Linked DNA regions of Homo sapiens. The protein of the gene in region 1 interacts with the protein of each later gene in a biochemical or structural test. Each region holds a gene or a part of one and is shown in the gene's direction. Other genes may lie near its edges.

Region 1 (3,500 bases):
ATAATTTAGGATTGAAGTAAAATGCTCTTCCACATAGAAACTCTGGTTCCTTAGGATTTATATTTGGATGATATAGAGTAAGCATCCAGTTTTCAAAACCGCCTTATCCATTGTTTAAAGTGTTAATGAGTTCTTATGATATCAAAGTGGGACTTAAAATCTATTTATAATTTGTAAGGAAAACATAATTAGGACAAATAAGGGTTCATTTGGTCTGTGAGTGCCATGCAATAAGTTCTTCACAGGGTTGCATCATCCTTCTGAAAGACACAAGACTATCATTTTGTGTACTAAAGCTGTAATATAAATGAATGATTTGTGAGTTTGAATTCTGGGTTAAGGGTGGAGATACGGGGGTGTGAGATGTGACACGTGGCAGGCTATGGTTGCGACCTTGCATTTGAGCGCTTCCCATGGGTTCTCTTCCTCCTAAGCCACAACAAATCCAAAGAAGGAAGGAAATCAAAGGCTCAGGTAAAGGTGGCAGCTCTGGCTCTGTGGAGGATAAAGATTCTATGTCCATCTAGATGGCCCGACACTCTACCAGAGTTCCTGATTCTGGTGCTTGGAAGAGCAGAGTTAAATCATCTTCCTAAGTACTTAGGGCCAAAGAGTGACTTAGCCATAGAATGATGGTCAGATGTTTGCTGCATTCATTTCTCTCTGGGAATGTGAATGCCCTAATTTCTCATAAAGATTATTACAGAAATACTGCAAAATAGAAATACGTAGTACTTTGCCATTTGCTATTATAGTGAAGGGATTTGGACTTTTCCTCTGTTCAAATAAGTTAGAAAAATGGAATACTTAGGTAAATAAGATCTTGGTGAAATATTTTGTTGGTTATCTCCAGTGTTCACCACATGCAGAGGAGATAAGACATCTCAGCAGCGGCTAGGTACTAGCAAGATGGTGGCAACCAACTGGCAAGGCCTTTGCCCTTCTGGAGCCTCCATTTCAATAGAGTAAGGCTTAGAGGGCCAATGCGTATCATAAATGGAAGATAGGAGGACTAGTTTTTAAAAGTTGACTGTTGAATAATGAAATACAGACCAATTAAATATCTTTGGGGTTTATTTGGATTTGAGTTTTTATAGAAACTTAAATGTATATTTTTGCTCGTAGATATTTTGTGGTTCTCTCAACTACAAAGTTGTTTATGTTTTTAAGAACAATTTTAAAGACCATTTGATGCTTGTGATTTTTATGGTAACATATTAATATGACTAGATATATTTTGAAACATAGTTTTATGGTCCTATTAGCATTCATCAGTAACCAGTTGCCTACACCTCTGAATAATAGTAAATGGTTTAGTATTACTGAGCTCAAAATATTTGCACTTTTGTCACTTAAATTGTTTATATTGATCAGTCCCTGAATTGTAAGAAACTTCATACTGAAACCTCACATTTAGGCTGTGAGTTTGATATGAGTCTTTTCTAACCCACAGAGAACATTCACTAGAAATGAAGCCAGAAGTTTAAGGACAGCGGGATTTTGAAGGACAATGAAAATCCTTAGAAAGTTCCCTGATATTCGTGTTTGCCATTCTCCTCTCCATGCTACAGCCCCCAGTCTACTTCAGTGATGGAGCTGGAGGCCAGCAGGACCCATTGGTTAATTGTATAGTCTTCCATTTGGTTAGTCCAGGGAATAGTTTCCCACAACTTCTAGCTTCTCTTCCTTACATGAAAGTTGGTACAGGGATTTGACACTTAGTATAACAGATAAGAGACTTCTCTCGGGGTTTTTGGTGGGTTTGTTTGTTCTCCTGCTTGGCCTCCTTAACAGCTACTGTCTTGTGCGACCAAAGCTATCAACTTTGTTCCCCGCCTAAAAATTACAATGCCTGCTGTTGGTAGGAAAGGAATAGACATCTCATTTTTATCACCCCCTGAGTGGGGTGCTTGAGCAAAAGAGGTTACCATTTCCTTTATTTATAGGCTTCTTTCATAGTGATCAGAAAAGGGGTTATGAAAATATTCACTGTCATAATAAGTCTTGGGACATCCTTAAGAAATGTCATCACTGCCTTAACCCATATGCTGTGGGGTTGTGTTTACCAATAATAGATTGCAGTTCAAGAATTAGCATTGTCTAAAGTTATTGAGATATACTGTGTATTGTTTCTTCACAGATATATTTCACAGTAAAGGGACCTTCTATATAATTAGGGTGTTGTTTAGGGAGTTGATTACAGGTTTAGTCGTTTAATACATACACAGGAGATAACTCAAGACATCTCAGCAGCATCTATGTACTGGCAAGATGGTGGCAACGAACTGACAAGGCCACTGTCCTCCTGGAGCCTCCATTTCAGTCATTTACAGAGGATTGCGCCCTCCAGGACTCCATCCTCTTGTGCTGCCTGCCATTGGAGCATTGTATTCAGTGGCCTCCCACAGAGAGTATCAAAACTAACCCAGTATGTGGAGACCTATGTCAGTCTATTTATTTTTCTATCTCTGTGGGGCTGGAGAAGGAAATAAACATAAAACTAAAGATTTAAAGATTACTTTTGATTTCACTTAGTTTTTTTATAACATCCTTGTGTTATGGGTAGTTTCAGAATCTCAAGAATGAGCAGAGAATAGATTTGCTGTGTTTATCAGAGTAGAAACTTCTGATAGTCTGCCCTAAAAGAATTTAATTGGCTGATTTGACCCTTTATTATTATAGTGTTACCCCAATTAATCACATTTACAGAAATGACTTTCTTTAAGTAGAGAACATCAGTTCTTGGCTAAGCCTCTCTAATATGCCCGTTTGTTCATTGCCCTTTCTAGACGGAGTGCCAGCATCCATGGGGGCTACCTGGGGAGGTGAGCAGTAAAGGGGTCTAATTACAGAGCCATATGAGTTTGCCGAAGGAAGTCCACAGAGGATGAGCATGGCTGCTGCTGTGGCCTGGGTGACGGGATCCCTGCTCCGAGGTGGTGCCATTGAAACTGAGATCTGAGGGAGGAGGAGACCTAGGCATGAGAAGAGCAGGGGGAGGCACCAGGATCAGGGGTGGCACCAGGACTAGGTCAGGCCTCTCTGGGAACAGAACACCACATACCTGGAGATGGTGAGCAAAGGGTGGGATGGCATCGACAACAGATTAGAGGCTGGGAAGGCCTGTGATCCCTGAGTTAGAGCTGGCATTTAGACTGCTTCCAAAGAAGATGAAACTTCTGCTGCCATGTTGTGTATTGGGAGCTGGCTGGGGAGGTGATAGGATATGAGAAAGGGACAAAAAAGCAATTGATGGCATAGTTGAGTCTGATAGAGAGTTTAGGCTTTATCTTACGGGCTATGGATGGGCAGTGGTGTATTTTAAAAGAGGAATATTTGTTTGTGTATTGTTTTAAAGTCACTCCAATGCAGTGCTGCTGGGTGTGCTCTATAAAAGCCAAGAGTGGAACCAGCGGCCGTTTCAGCAGGTGCTGCAGTTGTTCAGATGGAAAGTGGGATGCCCTGGGCCAGGTTTGGCAGTGGAGGCGGACACAGCAGCT
Region 2 (2,400 bases), on another chromosome or scaffold:
CTCCATCCCTTAGCTCACAAGCTCAGGAGCGCCGTTCTGGTCTGGGCCCAAACGCTGTCCACACCCGCTCACCTTTGATGTCAACAATGTAAGTCTCCTTTCTAGGGTCTTCTGGGGTCAGGTGGAGGGTGAATAGGTGGGAAGGAGGTGGCGGCTCCCCACTCGAGGGCTGATGTGCTCACCCTTCCCTGCCCTGCCTTCTCCTAGCCCCTGCATCTGGACTATGTGATGGCTGCTGCCAACCTGTTTGCCCAGACCTACGGGCTGACAGGCTCTCAGGACCGAGCTGCTGTGGCCACATTCCTGCAGTCTGTGCAGGTCCCCGAATTCACCCCCAAGTCTGGCGTCAAGATCCATGTTTCTGACCAGGAGCTGCAGAGCGCCAATGCCTCTGTTGGTGAGGGTGTTTGGCCAGTTGGCCAGGAGTCACCCCACATGTCCCCGGCCTAGTCCAGCCTCCCCACCAGTCCTCTACCCCTGGTTCTGCTCTGCTCTGTGACCCCAGGCCTGAGGTTTACCCACACCTTCCTTTGAGCCTCCCTTTGACATGAAGAGGGTAGGTTGGGGCAAATTATCTCCCTCCCTCCTCCTCCTTCCCACTATCTGGCCCTCAGGAGAACTTGCTGTTTTACTCTTGCTCTGTGTATTTCCCTTAGTTTTGTTCTTTCTTCTGTTTCTTCTTGATCTGTTCATCTAGGAGGTATGATCTCTACCAGCAGTCTCTCTCCCTTGATACTTTCCTGCCTTGTCTCCTTCCAGATCCGCCCCCATCTGTACATCTACCTGCATGTTTCTCTGTGCATCTTCACCCTCCATAGTTTGGGGCTGCGGTTTACTGACACCCCCACCCCACCCCATCTGCATATTTTTTCACCACCCCTCCCTTCTGTATATGATGCTTCTGTAGCTCTGTAACGCCCCCTACATTTACCTTCCTTATATCTCCCCCGTCTTCCTCTCCATAGATCTCCTCCCATTTCCCCTTCCATGGTCCCCATCTTCCTTCTGAAATGTCTACTCCTTCATGTTCCTTTATGTATGTCTTCCAATCTTTCCTTCCATAGCTCTCATCACCTTCATATATTTCTTCCATCTTTCTCCTCCCACCTGCCTCGCCCTCTGTATATACCCCCACTCTCCCCCTTTTATATCTTCTCCATCTCCCCCCATATCTTTCCTCTATGTCCACATCTGTGTATTCCCCCCAACTTCCCCTCCATATATCTTTTTTACTCCCCTTTTCCTCCCTGTATCCTCTGTGTTCCCCCCATCTTGCTCTACATCATTCTTCCCAAGATCTTTACGTCTCCCATCTTGATCTCTCCATCTCCACTTTCTCCTAACATTTTCATTTCCGTTCCTTAGTGTCTCTAGAGAGATCATTCTTGATAGCCTCAGCTCTTTCTCTGTGTTTTTCAGGTTTGTATTCTGCTCTGCTCTACCTCTCCTCCTTGCCCCTTTTCTCTCCCAGGATGTCTCTCCTTTCCAAATCCTTTTTGTACCTGAATACCTTTTGCCCCACCCTGGGCTCTCATTTCCATCTCAGACCTTAGCCTGGGATCTAAAGGGCTGACAGTGTCCCTTTCTTCATGCAGATGACAGTCGTCTAGAGGAGCTCAAAGCCACTCTGCCCAGCCCAGACAAGCTCCCTGGATTCAAGATGTACCCCATTGACTTTGAGAAGGTATGGGGTGGGGCTCAGGACAGGGAAGGAGGATGGGCAAAGCATAGACAGGCTGGAGAAAACAGGAGTATCTGGAGCCAGCCCCGGGCCTTTGTGGGGATCAGATTGTGGGCCTGCCATATGGCTCTGAATGAGTAGGTGTTCCCAGCCATCCCTTTGTGATCTGGGAGAGTCCAGCAGGCAATTGCAGTGGAGGATACACATCTTCTTTATCTGATCCTCTCCCCACTGCCTTCACACCCTCCCCACTCATAACAGGATGATGACAGCAACTTTCATATGGATTTCATCGTGGCTGCATCCAACCTCCGGGCAGAAAACTATGACATTCCTTCTGCAGACCGGCACAAGGTGAGGGGAATCTAAATCTGATGTTCCACCCTCCTCCAGGTTTGAGTTACCCACACTTAGCCCCTCTGTAGACCCTGAGGCTCTTGTACTTAACTACCACCTTCTTTTGTCCCTTCTGTCTCTCAGAGCAAGCTGATTGCAGGGAAGATCATCCCAGCCATTGCCACGACCACAGCAGCCGTGGTTGGCCTTGTGTGTCTGGAGCTGTACAAGGTTGTGCAGGGGCACCGACAGCTTGACTCCTACAAGAATGGTTTCCTCAACTTGGCCCTGCCTTTCTTTGGTTTCTCTGAACCCCTTGCCGCACCACGTCACCAGGTGGGGGCCTGCATCCGAAGCAGGGTTTGGGTGGGGTGTATCTGTGT

The links. Proteins that work in one complex are often made in the same cells at the same time.
Region 2: the proteins of GAN (region 1) and UBA1 form a complex in vitro, tested with the Homo sapiens proteins (one study listed by IntAct).

The regions. Positions count from the first base shown.
Region 1 is NC_000016.10:81,321,462-81,324,961, forward strand, and holds part of GAN (gigaxonin), read left to right. Parts: intron 1-3,500. UniProt on the Homo sapiens protein: Probable cytoskeletal component that directly or indirectly plays an important role in neurofilament architecture.
Region 2 is NC_000023.11:47,210,829-47,213,228, forward strand, and holds part of UBA1 (ubiquitin-like modifier-activating enzyme 1), read left to right. Parts: intron 1-13; coding exon 14-88; intron 89-207; coding exon 208-397; intron 398-1,595; coding exon 1,596-1,684; intron 1,685-1,942; coding exon 1,943-2,035; intron 2,036-2,161; coding exon 2,162-2,353; intron 2,354-2,400. UniProt on the Homo sapiens protein: Catalyzes the first step in ubiquitin conjugation to mark cellular proteins for degradation through the ubiquitin-proteasome system.